Linked DNA regions of Homo sapiens: all the other regions are linked to region 3. Evidence: fine-mapped expression QTL. A gene starts in region 3. Each other region holds a variant in brackets. All regions are shown on one strand. Distances are between the middles of the regions.

What was found. PIP is the estimated chance that this variant, and not a neighbour inherited with it, causes the effect.
Region 1: its variant is fine-mapped to the expression of ADAMTSL2 in whole blood (TOPMed, PIP above 0.99). The same link has a PIP of 0.9 or more in blood mononuclear cells.
Region 2: its variant is fine-mapped to the expression of ADAMTSL2 in lung (TOPMed, PIP above 0.99).

Annotation. Positions count from the first base shown.
Region 1 is chr9:133,484,980-133,492,386 of GRCh38, forward strand. LOC102723855 (a long non-coding RNA gene) reads left to right here and starts at 6,732. Exons shown (of 3, transcript XR_428608.4): 1 at 6,732-7,407. RefSeq lists enhancers at 420-935, 936-1,450. The variant G/A (reference allele first, on the strand shown) is at 3,029.
Region 2 is chr9:133,559,124-133,566,530 of GRCh38, forward strand. It overlaps ADAMTSL2 (ADAMTS like 2), which reads left to right. Exons shown (of 19, transcript NM_014694.4): 12 at 2,075-2,172. Among named protein-coding and RNA genes, the nearest start is that of ADAMTSL2, 28 kb to the left of the region's middle. The variant G/A (reference allele first, on the strand shown) is at 4,207.
Region 3 is chr9:133,530,231-133,537,202 of GRCh38, forward strand. It overlaps ADAMTSL2 (ADAMTS like 2), which reads left to right and starts at 4,474. Exons shown (of 19, transcript NM_014694.4): 1 at 4,474-4,687; 2 at 6,333-6,572. The coding sequence starts at 6,483. RefSeq lists enhancers at 3,339-3,880, 3,881-4,420, 4,421-4,962, 5,503-6,044, 6,585-6,972 and 1 more and a silencer at 2,991-3,080.

The DNA of each region.
Region 1 (7,407 bases), 45 kb before region 3:
GGAGGGGCCTGGAGTCCAGCTTGGGGGCAGGATCTGGAGGGGGCTGGGTGGAGCATCCCTGGCGGTGGTTTGCTGGTCCAGGGCGCTGGGGCTTAAATGATCTGGTCCAGACTCTGCCCTGTTGCGGGGGAGGGCTGGGGCCTGGCACTTGGAAGCTGTTTCCCAGGTCTCCACGGGGGCTGCCATAGGGGCCTCTGCCAATCTCCGGGGCTTCTCAGGAGCCACTGGTCCGCTAAGCCTCACTTTTCTCATCTGTAGGATGGATGCCACCTGTGCCCACCTCACCGCTGCCGTGCAGGGGGAGGGCAGCTGGCCGCGTTGATGCAGTTTGACAAAGGTCCCTCCAGACCAGTCTGACAGCTTCCCAGTTCCCCGGAAACGGGCCAAGCTGCATTCCAGGCCTGGCACCAGGGCCGAGGTCTCCGAGGGGACAGTAGGGCTGCCGTGTCTTGGGAAGGTGGGAGGCGGGGAGCAGATGCCGGGAATACTCATCCCACTCTGGGGGTCTTCTTCACCCCTGTTTTATGGAGGAGAAGACTGAAGCTCAGAGCTGCTGCCCAGGGTCACTTCTAGGTCACCTCATGCCCCCTGCTTTGGCCTATGCAACCCACATCAGGCCTTCCTGAGGGAGCAGACCAGAGGGACAGCAGAGGGTGGGCAGGTGGGGCCTTCCCCGAGGAGGTCCTGCCCCTTGCCTCCTCCTTCCCACAGATGGGCTGCCCAGGGCCCCCAGGGGAGAAGGTCTCTGGCACCCAGCTGTCCGGTGTCCCCAACGTCCCCAGAGATGTCCCTGGTGATGACCCTGAAGACTCGGACCTGGTGCCTTCCGTGACCCTGGCGCCTTCCGTGACCCTGGCTGCAGCCCTTGTCCTGCTGTTCCTCCTGCTCTCGGCCTGGCTGGTGTGGGACGGACCTTGCCAAAGCTGCTGCTAATGTGGGCTCCAGGAAAGTGTTGGGGGCCTGGGCCTGGCACGGAGTTAGGGGAGGCACAGCGGGGCCTCCCAGCGACACCCTGGGCTGCACTCCATTCCACCCTTTCCCAAAGCAGCCCCAACGGGACCCCAAGACTCCCCAGCGGGGCCCCTGGGTGGCACCGGACTCTGCCATTGCAGGCAGGGGGCGTGCTCCTGGGGACGGCCCCGGATGTTGGGCTGAGAGCCTCGCGCAGCCCCGGCGCTCAGGCAGATCGGGCTCAAATCCACTTCCTCTCCAGGCTGGCTGCAGGACCTTGGCCCCGTCTGAATCTTTGCAAGGCCCTTTTGGGTATCGCAGTTAAAGCCAAGTGACCCCTAGGTACTGGTGAAATGAGCGGGTGAGTTGGAAGATGGGGGTTCTAGTCCAGGCTCTGCCCGTGCTGGGCTGTGACATGGGCAGGTGCCTTTTCCCACCTGGATCCTGGTTTCCCTGGTCATCCAATGGGGCTCACAATACCCCACTTCTGGGCCCTGTTGGGAAGGCAGGTGCCGTGGGAGGCTGGGGCTGGGCCAGGCGGGTGCCCTGGTCTTTGCTGCCACCTGGTGGCTACAGATAGAATCGCATCGTCTGCTGCATGGTGCCCTCTGGGTAGTCCAGGCCAGGGCTGAGGAGCTGAAGGCTTTTTATGTTTTGGTGCAGAACATTTTGAGATTGTGGATGTGGATAAGCACAAATCCTGTTACCCAGAGAGAACAGATTTTTAACATTTTCTATTTATCTTCTTTCCCCATCTCCATATCTATAATCTCCTTAACAAAATCATAGGGCGGAGGTAAGTTGTGAGCCGGGCTCTAGAGTCAGAGAATGCTGCCTGTGGCCCTGGCCCAGGGCCCTGATGCTCTTTTGTGCCGCAACAGCTCCCTCCCTGACCTCGACATAGGAAGCAGGGAAGCATTTTTAGGGCTGGGAGGAGTGTGGGAGACCTTCGGGCTGGAAGGTCTCCTGGAGGCTCCAAGACCCCCCACCGCCGTCTCTCACGGAACAAGTACTTGTCAAGATTTCTACTGTGGGCCGGGTGCGGTGGCTCAAGCCTGTAATCCCAGCACTTTGGGAGGCCGAGGCAGGTGGATCATCTGAGGTCAGGAGTTCGAGACCAGCCTGACCAACATGGAGAAACCCCGTCTCTACTAAAAATACAAAATTAGTTGGGCATGGTGGCGGCCACCTGAAGTCCCAGCTACTCAGGAGGCTGAAGCAGGAGAATTGCTTGAACCCAGGAGGCAGAAGTTGCGGTGAGCCGAGATTGAGCCATTGCACTCCAGCCTGAGCAAAAGAGTGAAACTCCGTCTCAAAAAAAAAAAGAAAAAAAAAATTTCTACTGTGAGCCAGCCCCTGCGGGGAAACAGGGTAAACAGGATCCCTGACGGAGCTGGGGTATGACCAGGAATGGGAAGGCTGGACTCACTGCAGCATGCTGGGGCTGGGCTGGGTAAGTAGGGCCTGCAGGAAGGGGCAGATGAGCTCTAGGGTGTAGGAGGAGTAGGCCAGGGCCGGGGTCCCCAGGGAGGCTGTTCCAGGCAGAGGAACAGACTATGGGGAGTTCAGAAGTCACTCTGTGTTCTTCTGCACCAGCTACTGCTCCCCTCAGGGAACTGGAGGCCTCTGGAGCCTCCGAGAAGCAGCCACCGAGAAGGGGCAAGTGAGCGGCAAGGCCGTGGTTCCACATTCCCAAACCACGCTTTGTCCTTCCTGGGGTCCCCGTAGGTGGGGCTCTTCTCCCTCCTCCAGCTTTCTGAAGCCAAAGTACACACCTCGGTGTCCATGATGGGGCAGCCGGGGGGCTGTACGCTTCCTCTGTCTCTGTCTCTGGGCAGACCATAGTCCAGCGTGCTGCCCCTACTGCCCTGGAAAAGCCGAGCCGGGAAGCGAGCGGTGGCTTTAGAGGCGTCGTGCAGAGGGGGAGACGGAGGTAGAGCCTGGAGGTTTGGGGCACCTCCTGAAGCAGTGGGGTGGCCTTTCAGGTGGGGGGACTGAGAGAGCAAAGGCCTACAGGCTAGACCGGGGCCTCCCTGAGCTGTCATAAGCAGGACAGGACGTGGGGGCGCGCCACGGA[G/A]CCGCCTCCCTCCCCTGCCCATCCTGCCTGCTACAGGAAGGGCACACCCGGAGAAAGGAGGGAGGCCGGTTCCTGGCAGAGCAATGTTGAGGCTGATCCTCCCTGCTTCCCCCCACAAGCCTCTCTGTGAGCCTCCTCCCTGTCCCGCACACCCACCTGGGGGATGCCGCAGATTCTCAGAATCAGGCTCTACATGGCCCCAAGCAGCACATGGCCTGGCGGAGGCAGCAAGCATGGCCGCCGGAGCCTCTGGCCTTCTGCCCAGGGAGCAGGGGCCCCTTGGGGGCTGTTCTCTCTGCTCCCTCTGTCATGTCCCCTCTCTGTTGGTGGAGGAGAGTGGCTGCAGGCAGGCGCCTGACTCCCCCAGCTCCACACGGCTCCAGCTTTCTCTGCCTCTCCGTGTTCACCCCTCAACGCATCTTGTCAAATGGAGACCTCGAAGGCTGGGTGCAGTGGCTCAGGCCTGTAATCCCAGCACTTTGGGAGGCCGAGGCAGGTGGATTGCTTGAGGACAGGAGTTCGAGACCAGCCTGGGCAACATGGCTAAACCCCGTCTCTACAAACAATTTAAAAATTAGCTCGGTGTGGTGGCACACGCCTGTAATCCCAGCTACTCAGGAGGCTAAGGCAGGAGAATCGCTTGAACTCAGGAGGTGGAGGTTGCAGTGAGCTGAGATCACGCCACTGCACTCCAGCCTGGGTGACAGAGCAAGACTTTGTCTCAAAAAAAAAAAAAAAGAAGAAGAAGTAAAAATGGAGACCCTGAGACCCAGCTTCTGAGGTCGGGGGGTGGAGTTAGTAACTCACAGTACGGGCTGGTAGAGTCTGCCAGGGTGGTCTGGGCTGGGCTGTTGGGGATTTCAAACCCACGTCCCTCTTCGCATCCCGTCAGAGGCTGCCCGAGGCAGAGGCAGAACCTGCGGCTTCTTCCTCCCAAGTGCTGAGATCAGGTCCGAAAGTTCCAGTCATTCGCACTCCTAGAAGTGGCTTCCAGCCTTGGCCCAGGAGCCATCAGGACCAGGGACGAGGGCTGCAGGGAAGCCCAGGTACGCAGGCCGAGGAGCCCATGTCTGCCCCAGAGCAGGGCAGCAGGAGGATGGCCTCTGGCCCTTGCCACCCTGGGCCTCAGCCCTGCCTGCAGGCCCAGTGCTAACGAGAAACGCAGGCCGACCAGGGCAGTGTATGCCTGCTCTGTGCGTTTGTATTTCTGACCAGCGCCCATGAGAAGGCTGTGTGGTTTCCAATGCATTTCCAGGGGCCAACTCATTCCACCCGCCTAGCTCTGGTGGCTCCTGCAGGCCAAGCCCTCGCAGAGAGGGCCTGGGGTGAGAGCAGGCATCTCCGTGCAGCTTGGCCAGGAAGGAATCGCATCCGCAAGGAAAATATTGTTCTGTATAATTCAGTGGCCCGTTTTATAAACATTGTGGTTCTACCTTGGGGTTTTTCCCGCCTTGTCTCCTACCTCCCCTCCCCACCTTCCAGGGGCTGCTGGGCAGCCAGATGCCTGAGGTTAGGAAAGTATGTGCTTTTGCCGGGCTAGACAGTGCAAAGGGTGACAGGGTGGGCCTGGGGACGGGGCTCAGCCAGCCAGAGAGAGTTCTGGGGTGGGGTTGGCAGGACTGCAGCTCAAGCTGGTTTGCAAAGAGGTGTGAGAGCAGGCAGCCCGCCAGAGCGTGTGTGCGTGTGTGTGTGTCTCTGTGTAGGGATGTGCCTATGTGTGTTTGCCTGTGTGTGTGCCCGTGTGTGTGCATGTGTATATATGTGTGTTTATGTGTACATGGGTTCTGTGTGTTTGGATGTGTGTCTTTAACCAGGAAGCTGGGTATGGAGTGACACTGGCATCCTTTCTACCAGCCTGGATGTGGGCTGGTGGGTGTCTGCAAGGCCAGGTTAAAGTGGCCCATAGAGGGGCAAGGCAAGCTCCCCCCTCGGGGAAGAGGCTGCTCTGTGCCATTGTTGAGAGAGCGGGCATGGGGACAGATGGACTCCAATCCAGCCTGTATTTCCAGCACTCCCTAGTTGAGTGGCTTTGGGAAAGTCACTCTTCCTCCAGGTCAGTCACCGGGGGCTGTGGGGCTATACTGCCACCTCCATTCCTTTCTGCTTCCTTCTGAAAGGACCCTAATTTTGCTTGGGGATGGCAATGAGCCTTCCCTGCGGCCAGGTGGCCACGTGTCGGTGCAGAGGCCACGAGGGCTAGACAGGAGGGTCTGGGGCAGCTCTTCCTGATTAGAGAGGTAAAGTCTCACTGGAAAACGTTTTGGGTCCTGCCCTCTTTTTCCTGCCTGGAATCCCGTCGCGTGGCCGGGGGAGGCAGCTGCTCACTGGCAACCATGAGGGTGAGACCCAGTCTTGAGGCTGAGACCGAGGCAGGAGGGTGGGACCCACGCTACGCTGCTGGGGAAGGAAGCAGGCAGGGGCTCTCAGGCAGTGTCTGGAGGCTGGATGTCCATGTGGAGTGATGGGGTTGGCTTCTGTTTGCTGCAGCCTCATGCACTCCTGCTGGACACCCGGTGTCACTCTCTCTTCATCTGGGGATTGAGGGACCTGGAGGCTGGAAGGGGCTGGCTCATGGGTGTGCTCTGGATCTAGGCACCCTCCTCACTGCCACACCCTGAGGGGCACTGGGGAATCGTCCTCAGAGGCGTGCAGGGGTGCTGTCGGGACAGTCGGGCCCTACTGCTTCAAGGCTGCAGGAGGAGGATGGGGAGGATCTGGAGGGGGAGGAGGAGCTGGAGAAGGAGAAGCAGGGAGAAGAAGGAGGAGGAGGAGAGGGAGGAGGGGGGGAAGGTGAGGAAGAGGAGCTGGAGGAGGAAGAGGGGAAGGAGGTGCTGGAGGAGGAGGGGAGGGGGAGAAGGAGGAGTTGGAGGAGGATGGAAAGGAGGAGAGGGAGGAGGAAAAGGTGGAGGAGGGAGGAGGAGGAGTTGGGGGAGGAGGATGGAAAGTAGGAGAGGGAGGAGCAAAAGGTGGAGGAGGGAGGAGGAGGAGTTGGGGGAGGAGGAAAGGGAGGAGGACAGTGAGAAGGAGAAGCTGGAGGGGGAGGAGGAAAAGCTGGAGGATGAGGGGGAGGAGGAGTTGGAGGAGGAGGGGGAAGGAGGAGCTAGAGGGAGAGGAGGGGGAGGAGGAGGGGAGGAGGAACTGGAGGAGGACTTGGAGGAGGAGGGAGGGAGGAGGACAGCCTGGGTGGGAAGTTGCACTTGGCCCAGCTCCCAGAGAGGTGGGTGGCTTTAGGTCATGCGTTCATCTGAGACCTAGTACAACCTAGGACCCTGGGGCCCTGTGCCGGTCACTGTGCCTCTTCCAGCCTCGGTATCCTCTGGAAGGTGAGAATGAAAAACACCCAATGACACTCAGACTGGACAGGAGCAGGTACGCAGACAGCAGATGGCCAGGTGCACAGAGGTGTCGCCTGACTTCCTCACCGGGACGGCATGGGGTGGGGCTCCTCCTGCAGGCGAAGCCCGCCCGGGACTGGGCTCTGGTGGGTTCTCTCTCTTTTCCTTCAACCAAAGACCTGGCTGGACACCCCCCATCTGACACTCCGGGGGCTTTCAAGGGGCTTCAGGCAACCCACATGCATTCTGGGCATCCCATTTAGGGGGATGAAGAAGGAATTGGATAAGGCAAGGGTGGGGCTGGCCCGTCTCCTCTGCTGGTGCATCAGCCCCTCCTAGGGACACCACTGTCCTTGACCCCTCTGCAGGCCAATCAGCCCTCCTTGGGAAGCCGCCGTCCTTGCCCGCTCTGCTCCTGGGGTCCCACCCAAGCTTCAATCCTCGCTGTGTGGTCTTCCCTCCGTGAGCCTTCATTTCCTCATCGGTAAAATGGGGGAGAGGAGAGCGCGGGGGTCAGCCCTGAGCCTGGCTGGTTGGCTACTTAATGGGCTTCTGGTACCTTGACCACCATCTTTGACAGCCTCAGTTTACAGATGAGGCCCTGAGGCCTGGAGGAAAGGATTAGGCTGCCTGGGATGTGGGTGAGAGGTCTGATTCTGACCCGGTGAAGTGAGCTCCTGTCCCCTCTGGGGTTCCCCAGCAGGCATTAAGGGAGGGGTCAGACGAGGTCCCCCTACCGTGGCCAGATGTGCAGCGACCTTGGGCTGTAACCTCAGGGGGTTCGCGCCCCCCACAGCCTGCTGGGGACTGACCAGGCCTGGGGGAGACTGGGGGAGCGAGGGGCTGGGAGGGAATACCACCTGGCCGGACGAGGCCCACACCGCCCTGCCAGCCTGGCATCTCTGCTCTCCCAGGCTCAGCCAACACCCGCTCTAGGACTCAGCCAACTATTTGTGGGCTGCTAAGTAGCATGACAGCTGCTTTTCTTGCTAAAGTATGACATTACATTTTTCCGGATGGCCGGGCACTTCCTGGCCTGAAGTG
Region 2 (7,407 bases), 29 kb after region 3:
GGGGAGAATTTAAAGCTGTTGAAAGTAGGTGGGGAACTGGTCAGCACAGTTTAGTGTTTTCTGAATCGAACATTAAGGACTGGTCTTCCGGGTTCTCCGTTCCCTGAAAGGACTTACTTATCCTGATCTGGGTGCTCTGAGTGGCCCCCATTGGGGCAGTTTTCCAGGTTTCCAGGGAACTTTTGTTCTGAGATGACAGGGTCTTGGGAAACCCCCCACCCACCCCCATTTTTTTTTTTTTTTTGAGACGGAGTCACTCTGTTGCTCAGGAGTGCAGTGGTGTGATCTCGGCTCACTGCAAGCTCTGCCTCCCAGGTTCATGCCATTCTCTTGCCTCAGCCTCCTGAGTAGCTGGGACTACAGGCGCCCGCCACCACACCCGGTGAATTTTTTTTTTTTTTTGTATTTTTAGTAGAGACGGGGTTTCACCATGTCAGCCAGGATGGTCTCGATCTCCTGACCTCGTGATCCACCCGCCTCGGCCTCCCAAAGTGCTGGGATTACAGGCAAGAGTCACTGCGCCTGGCCCCCACCCCCATTTTTAAAGCTTCCTCTAAGTTCTGAAAGAGGGAGGAGAAGGCACTCTTCCCTTCCCCTTGAGCCCCAGGATGGGACAGACTCTCCTGGCTTGAAGCTCCCAGGTGAAGGAGGCTTTGAAGAAACAGTGGGACCAGCCCCCAGCCCGCAGCCCTTCCTGGGCCTTGGTCCCCATGCCTTCTCCCTTCACTCCTCTTCTCCCTCCCTGAGTTTAGGGAGCCACACCAGTGAACTCACTGCTGAAGCTCCTGTGGGTAGATCATTCCTGGGGCCTCAGATGTGTGGTCAAGGCAGCGTTCATCCCCACAAATACTGCCTGGCTGTGGGATCCTCCCATTCCAGTCCAAGCAAAACAGAAGAGCAATGCTCACCCGCTTGCCTAACACATTGTAAACTCCCCATTCAATCCAAACCCATGTCTGTATCACGGAGTCAATCTGAAAGCCTTTCTGAATATAATGCTCTAAGCCTGACCACCCCCAGGTGACTGAAGGTCCTGAAGAAGGACCTGTGACCTGGCCCACGTTTCAGCCCAGTGAAGTATGGCGGCTTGGGGTCATCTCTAGCCAGCCCCTCTGGGCCCAGAGGAAAGTGGAGTTGGGCAATGCCACCTGCTGCACTGTCCAGTTTAAAAAGGAAGTCGAGGCTCGAAGGACCTGCTGTCCACCGCGCCGGCTTGCCATCGCCCCTTCTCTGGCTCAGGGGCGGCGGGACTCCATGGTGGCGTCCCAGAGCAGATGCCCGGGCTGTGGAGCTGCTGCCGCCTCTGCTTCCCTCCTCCCCTGCCGAGTCCAGAATGAGCCTGCACATTGGATGTGGAGGTTGGGCCCAGGCACACCTACTGGTTCAAAGAAGCAAACAGTCCTAACAATAGTTGGCTTTGGCTGCATAGGCTCCAGCCAAGAATCATAGCTGGTGGCTGGCTGGGACCCAGCGTGCCTCCCCCGACCCCAGCAGGTCCGTGCAGCCATGGCCTGCCTGAATTGCACTGTAGGCTCGGCCCCTGCCAGCAGCCGAGCTTTTTAATTTTGATAATTGGAGGCTGGATGCCTAGTGTCCCCCATTCCATCAGAGTCCCAGCTGGAGGAGGGGGTGGGAGAGAATTCTGGAACATTCTTAGCACATAAGACACCTTCTGAGGTCCCCTCCCCGGTGGGAAGAAGGAACCCACTAGCTGATGTGAGAAGGTAATATTGAGAAGCCTGCGTGTGTGCAGGGAGCAACTACAGTGCTGGGGGCCCCAAATTCTCAGGCCACCCCTCCCCTCCGGAAGGAGCTCGGGCAGCTCCCATGCAGTTGAGATGGAAAACAATGCCAATCAATCCTAAAATGTGCCCCTCTGCGGGCGCCTCATCCGTTCCACTTCAGACAGTGGGAACTCTGACCGTAGCAGGTGGAGGGTCGGCCCGGGGCTCAGGACAGGTGTGTGCTTCAGGCGAACATACCCTCCGAAGAAAACTCCCTCGCCTGAAAAGCCGGAGCCTGCCGGTGGGGCCTGGAGCGTCTCATCACCTTCCCTGCTTGGTCTCGCTTTCAGGACCAGGCCCAAGGCGCGCAAGCAAGGCGTGAGTCCCGCGGACATGTACCGGTGGAAGCTCTCGTCCCACGAGCCCTGCAGTGCCACCTGCACCACAGGTACTGGTCACGGGTGCCAAGGGGCAGCAACTGCCCTGAACCCATTTCCATGGACATGGGCTGGGGCTGTGGGGCCCACCCACTAGCTTGCAGCCCCCAAACTGCCCTCGGGGTGCTTGTCCGTGGCCTCCTGACTTGGGGGCAGTGTGGCGTGATAGGAGTTTGGGTGTCTGGTGAGGCCACCCTCATTCTCACAGTGTGCTAGACCATGGTCAGGTCCAGGCCCCTGGGGGTCATCCGGGCTACCACCCATTGGTGGTAGCCCTTGTCTGTTGCCAGTGATACCATGTTTTGTTAGGGCAAACATCCTTTGGGTTAAAAGTAAGAAATCTTAGGTAGCAGAGATTTTACTTTTGCTTCCAGCAAACATAGGAAGGGAGTCATAGGCCCCTGTGATCTGTGACGAAGGGAAGTAGGCAAATTCTAGGACCTCATCAGCAGGGGAGAAGTTAGGAGGGGAAAAAAGACCCTCCTCGGTGGTGCCTGGACAGACAGATGTGTGTGGTTAGTAAGAGTTGAGCTGGGATTTGAACCCACAGCTGTCTGGTTGCACGGCCACCATCGCCCTGAGACGCTGGCCACAGCCGCTAGAGCTGGAGCTGCCTCTGCTGCCCACTCTAGTACCCTCCCCTGGGGGATGCCGCGAGGTCTGATGTCAAACCCAGGATCAGGATACAGGGCCGTTGATGGGAGAAAATATGGCAGGGAGACCCCAGTGCCGGCTGTGAGGTCACATTTTATCTATTCTTGGGGCTTCATGTTTGGATGTAGAGGATACCCAGCTGGCCCTCAAAAGGTTTGATGCTCCTGGTCCCGCCCCAGTGCCACCCATTTGCCAGGGCATTTGATGCCCTTGCAGTCTCTGGCCAGTGAGGATTCCACACAGCTGGGCAGTCTGAGCTTGGCCGCACCCTCTGCAGCCCTGCTGGCATCTCAGGAGATGGGCCCGAGAGAGGGAGGGGCTGGGGCGGCCCTGCAGGCTCTGCTCACACTGGCCTTGCCTCTCTGGGACTGAAGAAAGGGCTCTGCCTCCTGTTACAAGAGCCCCCAAACAGGGCATAGCCATGGGGCATGCTGTGTTCGCCCCTGCGCCTGGCATCCTGGAGGGAAAAAGCAAGTGCTGTGGGCGGCGTGGCGGGCACCCGGCTCGGCCAGGCTCGCACCGCCGTGGGCGGCGTGGCGGGCACCCGGCTCGGCCAGGCTCGCACCGCCGTGGGCGGCGTGGCGGGCACCCGGCTGGGCCCGGCTCGCACCGCCGTGGGCGGCGTGGCGGGCACCCTGCTGGGCCCGGCTCGCACCGCCGTGGGCGGCGTGGCGGGCACCCGGCTGGGCCCGGTTCGCACCGCCGTGGGCGGCGTGGCGGGCACCGGCTTGGCCAGGCTCGCACCGCCGTGGGCGGCGTGGTGGGCACCCGACTTGGCCAGGCTCGCACCGCCGTGGGCGGCGTGGTGGGCACCGGCTTGGCCAGGCTCGCACCGCTGTGGGCGGCGTGGTGGGCACCGGCTTGGCCAGGCTCGCACCGCTGTGGGCGGCGTGGTGGGCACCCGGCTTGGCCAGGCTCGCACCGCTGTGGGAGGCGTGGTGGGCACCCGGCTTGGCCAGGCTTGCACCGCTGTGGGCGGCGTGGTGGGCACCGGCTTGGCCAGGCTCGCACCGCTGTGGGCGGCGTGGTGGGCACCTGGCTTGGCCAGGCTCGCACCGCTGTGGGCGGCGTGGTGGGCACCGGCTTGGCCAGGCTTGCACCGCCTGGTTGACCACACCATGGGCCCTGGGCAAATTGCCAAAGCCTTCCGAGCCACTGTTTTCCACAGGTGAACTGGGACGCCTGCTTATCTCAAAGGTGGGTTGTGGGGATCCACATGAAACAAGGAATAGCCTCTCATGGTCAGAGGTCAATGGATGCTGCCGTTCTGAGGGTGGCTGCCACCACCTGATGCAGGGTGCGGCTTCCACCATACCCAGGAGCAGCTGGCCTTGGAAGTGAGCCATGTGACCTGCCTTCCGGGCAGACCCCTAGCGGAGCTGAGCATGGTG[G/A]TGGGGTGTCAGCAGGGTGTCTGCTTTGCCAAGTCCTTTGCGGACCTGCCCTGAGTTCCTCCACTCTTCCTGGCCAGGGGACTCCAAGCGTGTGGGCGTTGTCAGTAAGTGTCAAGCCTGTGGGCGTTGTCACTAAGTGTCTGCAAACATCTGTGATTCCTCCCAGACACATCGCTGGCTGGAGAGGGGACGTCGCTCGAGACGTCTGCAGGGTGAGGCAGCCTCGCTGGCAAGGGGCCTGATGGGCAGCCCTGCGTGGAAGATGTCCCCAGGGAGGACACAGCACTGTCTCCCAACACCCAGAGAATGGCAGGGAGGGGGCTGGACTGGGTCTGTGCAGCGTGGCCCAAGGTGCAGTGGGGCAAAGGACAACAGGAAATCAGAAAGACAGGTTTTGGCTTTGGAAGAAGGAAACTCTGCTTTACAGGAGGTTGTTCAGAAATGGAAATGAGCCACCCTGAGAGACAGAGAGAGAGAGAGAGAAAGGGGGAGAGAGAGAGAGAGAGAGAGAGAGGGAGAGAGAGAGAGAGAGAGGGAGAGAGAGAGAGAGAGAGAGGGAGAGAGAGAGAGAAGGGGAGAGAGAGAGAGGGAGAGAGAGAGAGAGAGAGGGAGAGAGAGAGAGAGAGAGGGAGAGAGAGAGGGAGAGAGAGAGAGAGAGGGAGAGAGAGAGAGAAGGGAGAGAGAGAGAGAGAGAGAAAGGGGGAGAGAGACAGAGAGAGAGAAAGGGGGAGAGAGACAGAGAGAAAGGGAGAGAGAGAGAGAGGGAGAGAGAGAGAGAGAGAAAAAGGGGGAGAGAGAGAGAGAGAGAGAGAAAGGGGGAGAGAGACAGAGAGAAAGGGAGAGAGAGAGAGAGGGAGAGAGAGAGAGAGGGAGAGAGAGAGAGGGAGAGGGAGAGAGAGGGAGAGAGAGAGAGAAAGAGGGAGAGAGAGAGGGAGAGAGAGAGAAAGAGGGAGAGAGAGAGGGAGAGAGAGGGAGAGAGAGAGAAAGAGAGAGGGAGAGAGAGAAAGAGAGAGAAAGAGAGAGGGAGAGAGAGAGGGAGAGAGAGGGAGAGAGAGGGAGAGAGAGAGGGAGAGAGAGAGGGAGAGAGAGAGGGAGAGAGAGAGGGAGAGAGAGAGGGAGAGAGAGGGAGAGAGGGAGAGAGAGAGAGGGAGAGAGAGAGGGAGACAGAGAGGGAGAGAGAGAGGGAGAGGGAGAGAGAGAGAGACAGAGAGGGAGAGAGGGAGAGGGAGAGAGAGAGGGAGAGGGAGAGAGAAGGAGAGAGAGAGGGGGAGAGAGAGGGAGAGAGAGAGAGAGAGGGAGAGAGAGAGAGAGGGAGAGAGGGAGAGAGGGAGAGAGAGAGGGAGAGGGAGAGAGAGAGGGAGAGGGAGAGAGAGAGAAGGAGAGAGAGAGAGGGTGAGAGAGAGAGAGAGAAAGGGAGGGCAGGAGGGAGGGAGAGTTCCCTGTCACTGTGGGAGGTGCTGAATGGCACTGGGCAGAAATAACAGAGTCAGGGTCCACCCTTTGCATAGGTTGTGTCCGTGCGGATGTCCCATGGATGGTCATTGGCCCACCCTCCATCCTGTGCCTCGCAAGAACCCAGGCACAGGGCAGTTCTATCAGTGGGGCAGATCAGCCTGCCCTGAGCTTTGGCCGCGGTGGGGAAGCTTGTTTTTAGATTTTTCTTCGAAGACACTCTTTTGGAGCCATAGCAACAGAGGAGCGTGAGTTTGGCCTCGGCTCAGGTCATAGGTGGAAGTTTCTGCTGCCCTTCGGCGCTCCAGGGCACCGTGGTGAGGACAGTGGATCCTGCGGCCCCCAGGCTTCATCCTCCCCTTTCTTTTGTTTCAAGGAGGGGCTCCGTGGCTCAGGGGGTTTGAAAAGCACCGTTTTCGAGATGGGTGTCATGAAGAGGGTGCCCAGAAAAAACGTCCTGGCATTTGATTCTCACAGGCTCTCTGGAAGGTTCCCATTTCGGGAAGGAGCATGCTGAGGCCTGGAGTCTGGTCACGGTCACGTCACCCCAGGGAGGCACTGAGCTGGGACTTGGATTCCAGTCTCTCTTGACCAAGGCCTGCCGCGTTTCCACTCCGTGACGAGGAGCGAATGAATAACCAGGCACTTGGCGATGGTCTGCAAGTCCCCAGCCCCGCACCTCCCTGGGCCCCAGAGCGGGTGTCTCTGAGGCTTGGAACATTCCAAGCAGACCTGGCCGGGAAGCCAGCCTCCCCCTCAGAGAAGGCTAAAGGCTGCACGGCCCAGCTCTGGCGGGAGAGGAACCGTGATTGCAGCCTGGCTCGTCCTTTACGGAAAAAAGAAAAAATCCCCTTGTCGGCTGCTTCCCAGGCTGTTTCGTTCCATCCAGCGCTGGGGCTTGGAGAGGCAGGAGCCGCTGGCCTGCAGACACACGCCGCCGGGCGGCTGGGTTCTCTGGATATGGGGAAACCGATTTCCTTCTGGGGGAACTGGCAGCTGCAGCCAAGACCGTTCCATGATGCCCGTCATCCCGGAAGGCTGGGTCTGTCTCCCGTGGCCACACACACACACACACACACACACACACACACACAGCCACAGCAGAAGCAGCAAACCCTAACCCCACCCCAAGGCCGTTCCCACTGCTGCCGGCTCTCCCAGAATCATCCTGCTCCTGGGCAGGGAGCTGGGCCTGTGTGGCAGTTCGGTACCAGGCAAGGGTGCAGGGGCGAGGACGAAAGAAGCAGAAGGTGGAGATGTGGTCAAGGAAGTGGCACTGCTAGGTGAGGGCTGCCTGTCACCCACTGTCCCCCAGTGGGATTACAGAGTACGGGGCACCAACAAAGACAGGCACACAGTGATGATTAAAGAAAGTTCAGGCCTGGCGCGGTGGCTCACGCATGTAATCCCAGCACTTTGGGAGGCCAAGGCGGGCGGATCACCTGAGGTCAGAAGTTCAAGACCAGCCTGGCCAACATGGTGAAACCCAATTTCCATAAAAATACAAAAATTAGCCGGGTGTGGTGGCACATGCCTGTAATCCCAGCTACTCGGGAGGCTGAGGCAGGAGAATTGCTTGAACCCAGGAGGGGGAGGTTGCAGTGAGCTGAGATTGCACCATTGCACTACAGCCTGGGCCACGGAGTGAGGCTCCATCTCAAAAAAAGAAAGTTCAAGAGGATGCTTGCTAAGGACTGGGGCATGCCACAGAGGGCAGGGCGCGCCCGAACCCCCACCATGACCTCTGAG
Region 3 (6,972 bases):
CTCTCTACGTGGAAACTTGCCCCTCTTGGGCACCACATCCCTGGGCTTGCAGGGAAAGGAGAAGCTGAGTCAGGGCTCGCAAGGCCCTGGGCTCCAGGAACAGCAGTGGAGGCCATCGGGGAGGGTCCCGCTGCTGGTCCTGGTGGGGAGGCTGAGCACGTCCTGCTGCTCTGGGCTCTCCTGGGACCCAGGTGCACCCCATCCTGGACCAATGACAGGCACCCCATCCTAGCCCCAGACATCTCACAGGCACACTCGAGAGACAATGTGAGAAAGTTGGCCAGGCTGAGAAAGTCCACTTGGACTCAGGCGGGGTCCAAGCCTTGGCCTCAGCTTCCTTCTCTGTCTGGGCGTGGCAGTGTTACCTGATGTGGCATTGTCAGGATGGAGGATGACAGCAGAGTAGACACTGGCCCCGGGCTACCCTTTGGGCTCAGAGCAAAGCACGTGCAGCCCTTCCTTTCTCCACCACCATCCCAGGCCCTTCTCCCATATGGACTCATTTCAGCCTCACAAGAGTCCAGCATGGGGAGTGCCTTATCACCGCCACTTTACAGGTGAGGAAGCTGAGGCACAGAGAAGCTTCTGCCCTCGCCCAAAGTCACCCAGCTGGAGAGAGACGGAGTCAGGATTTGAACCCAAAGAGTCCGGTTCCAGGCACTCACGCGTGAGGCTGCTGTTGCTGTGCTATTGGAAGAGCTGCTGCTTCCTATGCTGAGCCTCCACGCTAAGCCTCTGAGACGGGGCCCTTCTGAGTGTCGGGATCCAAGGTCCTGGGTTTCCTGCTTCACCTGGCTGTGACACCAGTGGCTGCCCGCCCCTGGTCACTGTGGGTGGCATGGAAGAAAGAGCTCACTGGCTTGGTGATGTCCTCCTGCCCCCAGCAGATATCCCTGACACGGGGCATCTCTGGAGGTCATGGCCGTGTGCGAGCAGAGCCCGAGGGGCTGCTGGGGGCTGGGGTTCTTCCGGTCCGCCAGCTTTCAGATGATGCTTCCAGGAGTCCTGGTGCCCAGAAGGGGCCTCAGGGCTGCTGGGGAGAAGAGGGGAAGCAGGAGCCCCCACCTCTGCTTTTGTCTCAGTTGTCTCTTGAGTGTGCCTGTGAGATGTCTGGGGCTAAAAAAGGACCTTGACCTTGTGCAACAGACCAGGAAACTCGGCCTGTCAGGGACAAGTGGCCTGAAGTGACCTGGCCAGCCAGTGGTCGTGCATGGACCTGGGACCAGCCAGGGAAGGCGGGGGAGGCTCTTCCCGTATATCCAGCCCCAGGGGGGTCTCAGGGACAGCTGGCTTCTATCCTGGGCCAGGAAGGAAGCTCGGGGACAGGGACGGCTCTTGGGGTTGCTGAGGCCCCCTCGCTCTTTCCCTGGGGCTGCCTTCTGAGTCCTGGTCCTCTTCCGGGGCTGCCAGCCACCTCCCAGCTGGCCACATGGTCCCTTGGTGGCCCCGTCCCAGTCAGGTGTGAGAACTCTGGCTGGGTCTGCCCAGGAGGCTCCTAGGATGTTCTGGGTCCTGGGCTGGCAACAGAGAAGAACCGCAGGATGCCAGGGAAGGTGGTATTGGTGGGCCACTCTTGAGGCTGTGGCCGGCCAGCCCTATCGGCTAGGTGAACCACACTACACACATACATTTGCCAGGCCTGCTAGGCCTCTGGGTGACAGAGAGGGGACCCACCTCGACAGCTCGGGCCACGTCCTTAAACTCCCGAGCCTGCTGTGGCCACTTTGCTGTGAGGACAGGCCCTGCTCCCACTGCGGCAGCCTAACATCCTCCCCAGGGAACCTCCAAAGTGGTCAGCCACGGCCCACCAGCCCCTCTGCCTCAAGCCTGCTTCTCTATCCCCGCCGTGTTTTCCCTGGAACCCCACCCTCCCGGGCATCCCCCACACATATTCCTGCTGTCCTATTTCTAAGCTCCTCAGATATCTGGAAAACACTGGCGGAGAAAATCCCCTTCTTTTTTTTCTCTCTCTTTTTTTCTTTTTGAGACGGAATCTCACTCTTTCACCCAGACTGGAGGGCAGCGGCGAGATCTCGGCTCACTGCAACCTCCACCTCCCAGGTTCAAGCAATTCTCCTGCCTCAGCCTTCCGAGTAGCTGGGATTACAGGTGCCCGCCACCACGCCCAGCTAATTTTTGTATTTTTAGTAGAGACAGGATTTTACCATGTTGGCCATGCTGGTCTCAAACTCCTGACCTCGTGTGATCCCCCTGCTTCAGCCTCTCAAACTGCTGGGATTATAGGCATGAGCCACTGCGCCTGGCCAACAATCCCCTTCTAAAGGCAGGTGGTGTCTCCAGCACCAGGGCCATACGGCTGCAACACCCCTACAAGTGCCGGTAGGTGTGGGCTGAGACCATCCTACATGGGGAAGGCCCTGAGAGGCCGGGAATTTGCAGGCCGAAGAGGGATCCTGGAGAGTGGGGGACTCACCTCAACAGCACTCTCTAAGGGGTAAGGAGCCCCTGGCATCAGGAGCTACCAGAGCACCTGCTACGTGCCAGTCATGGCTCCCTGTGGGCCTCAAGTCTGCAGGCTCTGGGGTAAGGGGTGGGGGTGGTGTGGAAGTGTGGCTGGCCAGGGGAGCTGGGGCCTGGAGGGTCACACACCTGCAGGAGGTCACAGAGCCAGGGGATGGCTGGCCCCACAGACCCGTCTCCCAGGTGGCCAGCCTGCAGCCTGTGCCGTCCTGCTGAGCCAAGAGAAGACACTGGGGGTGTTTGTGTTGGTCGGCTGTGGGGTCCCTCCCAAGGGAAACCGTTAGTCACCCTGGCGCTGGCTGGATGTGAGGCCACAAACGCCAGGAGAGCTCGGGGACTGTGCCAAGGGGTGCGAGGCCTGGCGGTCACCAGAAGAGAGAGGAAGGGGATGGCAGAGGCACCCAGAGCGAGTGTAATCCGGTCATGTGAGAGGGACTGGGTGTGTGTGTGCCTGTGTGTGTGTGTGTGTGTGTGTGTGTGTGTGTGCTGGGTGACAGGTGCCACCATGTCTGTGATTCAGCACAGCGACCCCAGGGGGCAGTGTGGGCCTGGGTTAGGGTTAGGGTTAGTCCTGGTTCCACACCGCAGGTGGCCCTGTGACTAGGAGCAGCCACCTTGCATCCCAGTTGCCCCAGCAGGAGAATGAGATGAATAAGACTTGCCTGCCCGAGGGTCCCGGGGAGAGAAACTTAAACAACCCGGCAGAGGAGAGAACCCGACACTCAGGAGCGCTGGCATCCCAGCCTTGCCTACTGGAGAGGTGACTTGGTCCCCGAACCTCAGTTCTTCCACCTGTGAAATGCAGATCATAAAGGTGGATCTGGCCTCACAGCTCTGGGCCCGTAGGACAAGCTGGACAGAGGGCAGACGGTATTATCGCTTTCACTACTATTACTGGTGGCTTTCCTTCCCAGCCTTTCTGGTGGGTGGTCAGACACAGGGCAGAACTTTCTCATGAAGGCAGCTGAAGGAACTCACAAGTTTCTTCCAGCAGGGAGGACAGAGGGAAGGAGAAGTGTCTTCCCGGCACTGCTGTGGGCCCAGGACATCTGCTGCATGGAGGCAGGGGCATGGATGAAAAGACACAGATGACCTGATGGAATGGTGCCCCAGCTTCCTCCTCCTCCCCTTTTTGGAGGTGCCTCTGTTTGCCGAGGATGGGCTCTGGGGAAGCTGGTGTGCAGAGGCTAGGTGCCCAGCCTTGCTTTAGGAAAGCCTCACAAAGTCTGGGGCCCGCCGGGAGTTTCCCAGGGGGGCTCTGCTGCTCCACCCACTCTCGCTCCCCTCTGTGCCCTGACTCAGCAGGAACAGAGGCTTGAGCTCCAGGCCTGGCCTGCCAGGGGCTGCCAAGTTGGTGCTGGACATCTGCAGAATCCCTGAGCCTCTCTGCCCTGGCCCTGGCTGCTCTAGCCATCTGGTCAGCAGGCCACGGGCACATCTGTCTCCTCCCTGGAGCCCTTGGTTCATTCTCGCTGGGTCTCCCTGCGTCCCTCCACCTGCTTAGGCCCCTGCATCTCGGGAGCTTTCTGAGGCTCGTGACCTGGGGCACGGTCGTCCCGGAAGTTCAGCCTTTCCCTCCGTACAACGGAGCCATCAGACGGGACACCTCATACATCCCAGACCCCATTCTCAGGAGCCCCAGGGACAGGGCCCGCTCTGGAGGCAGAAGCCGGACAGGCGGGGCTGGGGCTTTGCCACCGCCAGCCTCCCCGGTAACCTCAGGCCAGCGGCTGCTCCGTCTGGACACCCGACATGTGGCCCCCAGTTCTGGACCCGGGAAGAAGGCCTCCCTGCTCGCCGCTCCTGGGCCGCCGCCGCCGGCAGCAGCCAACAGGCAGCTGGGCCGGCCTGGCCGGGCTCCAGAGGCGCAGAGCGGGTTAAAGTGTGCGCCAGGCCGGCCGGCGCGGGCGGGGGAGCGGCCTGGTGGGAAGTGTGAGTGTTCCTCCCCGTCTGCCTGACAGCTATAAAGGCGGCCGCCGGCGCAGAGCCGCCACTGGGCTGCGCCCCTCCCGGGAACCCCCTCTCTTGGATGCTCTTTGAAGTGGGAGAGGGAGGCGGCGCGGGGGAGGAGGGGAAGGGGAGAGGGAGGCCGGGCCGCAGCCTCTGCACTCACGCCGCCCCCGCACGCACAGCGCACCTGGCGCCGTCTGCCCTCCGCAGCGCTCGCCCCTTTCTCTGGGAGGACAACCTGCTGACCCGAAGCCAGGTAGGCCACCTCGTCCCCGTCCCCCTCACGTTGCAGCGTCCACCAGGCCAGCCCACTGCTCAGAGTGGGGCTGGGGGTAGGAGCACCCCGCGCCCTCTGGAGCCGTTACATAACGTGGGGAGGCTTGTGGGGAGGGGTCGGGCCGCAGAGCACGGGGCAGGGTGGCCTCCCAGCACCTAGCCTTGTGCGCCCGGAGCTCTGTGTGCACGGCAGACCTCTCTGCTGCCGCCAGCCGCTGCTTTTGGACCCCAGGGAGGGATGGATCCCCGTGAGCGAGGCCTGGCCAGAAGCCAGTGGTGTCTGGAAGCCTTAATGAAAAAAGCAAGTGTGAGGCCGGCTGGCACCTGTCTTCAGCCGGCAGGCAGAGGCTGGGGCACCCGTTAGCCAATGGCACAGTGGAGGGGGCTCCTGTGGGTGTGAGGCTGAGAGTGCAGATGGAGGTCTGCAGGGGAGGGAGGTGGGGGGCAGGCGGCGGGGGCAGGGGAGGTCAGACTCAGGCTCCCCACTCCAGGGTGCACTGCTGCGTCGTCCGGGCTGCAGTGGTGTCCTTGGAGTGGCCCCTGAAAATCTGCAGGTGCCGGGCCTGCAAGGAAACTCTTCAAGTTGGATGGAGGCTGCTGAGGAGGGAGGGGCAGAGCCCGAGTTGGCCTCTGGCCTGGCAGGGGTGAGGGGTGACCTCCATGCCTTCTTCCCCTGGAATTGGCCAGGCGTGGGGGTCGAGTCCCTGAGTTTGCTAGTGTGCTACCTTGCTGTGTGGCTTTGAGCAGGTTGGCTCCCCTCTCTGGGCTCCAGGTTATGAGTGCAGGCTGCGTGGTTTCTGAAATCCCTTCTCTAACTCGCTGGCAAGTGACCCTCAGCACCTGAGCAAGGCCTGGACAGAGGTCATGGTGGATCTCTGGTCTTCCCTTCCACAGGGCAGGGTCGACGCTGAGGAGGGGGTGGGGAGAGCTGAGGGCCTGGAGGCTGGACAGTCCCTTCCAATGGGCTTGCTTTGACCCCTGGCAGGTGTTTTGAGCCAAGGGTGCTGGCTGTTGGGAGGAAGTCAGCCTTGTGGCCCTGGACTGCTGACATGCTGGCACAAACTGCACCTCCTCCTGCCCTGCCCCTCCCCCAATTCCATCTTCTCTCCGGGGATCGGGAGGCGGCATAGGTACCTGGGTTCTGCCTCACCTGAGTGCCGGCTGTTGCTGGATGCTGACTGTGGAGCTGCTGGTCTAGGGCGAGGCTGCACATTCCCCCGGGACCTGGCCAAGCCCATCCCCATGCACTGACCCTAGCAGCCAGTGGCAGAGGCCATTCTCCTGCGAGGCCAGCAAGAGCTGAGCCAGTTAAAATCCCAAGGTGCTCCTGCCAAGGCGCTGGACTGAGCCCAGGCCCATCCCTTCGAACCAGAGCCTTTCCCCCCGCCTGGGTCCCCAGCCCCCTCAGCCGAGGCTGGCTGTCTCCACAGCCCTTCTCTAGGGGGCTTGAGGACTTGGAGGCAAAGCATGGCATGCTTCCCTGCATGCCCTTGGATCAAGGGTGGCACAGGCTTAGCACGCACACCGCCGCTGGGTGTCTTGCCTGAAGCAGGCATTACTAATCATTCACCAAGCTCCTTCTTGCTAAGCCTAGACTGAGGCGGGGGGTTCATCCTTCCCAACAGGGTCTGCCAGACAACCACGACCAACTAGTCCCAGATAACCTTGAGGCCTGGGCACTGGCTGGGCCCCGAGGGCTCTTCCCAAAGCGTACCCTGGTCATCTGGAAGAGGATCGGAGCTGGCCTGGTGGTGACAGTGGCCTTGCTTCCTAGGATGGATGGCAGATGGCAATGTTCCTGCTGGGCCTGGTTCCTGCTGGTTCTGGCAGTTGTAGCTGGGGACACAGTGTCAACCGGGTCCACGGTGAGTGGGGTGTTGTGGTCTGAGGGCCCATGCCAGTCCCCTACCCAGGTGCTGTGATCACTCTCAGATGGACTGGCTTGGAGGGAGCCGTGTGGGCACGTGCCCCAGGTCCCAGAACCCATCTTGGCTCCTAGAAACTTCTGCCCAGAGCCAGTCAGATCAGCCTCTGAACTGGGGCCCTGGCTACTGTGGAGCCCCTGGCGACTTGGCAGGCGAGGGCTGAGGGGGCTGAGTGCTTCCCTTCCAAGTGAAGGCCCCAGCACGGCCAGGGTAGGCTGTGTCCTGCAGAACGCAGTTGGGCCCTGAGCTGCTCCGGGGAAAGTGAGGACAGTTAGATGCGGCCCCAGGAGCTTGCCAAGCCCCCAGGCCATCCTGGACCTTAAGGTCAAGGAGGACCCGT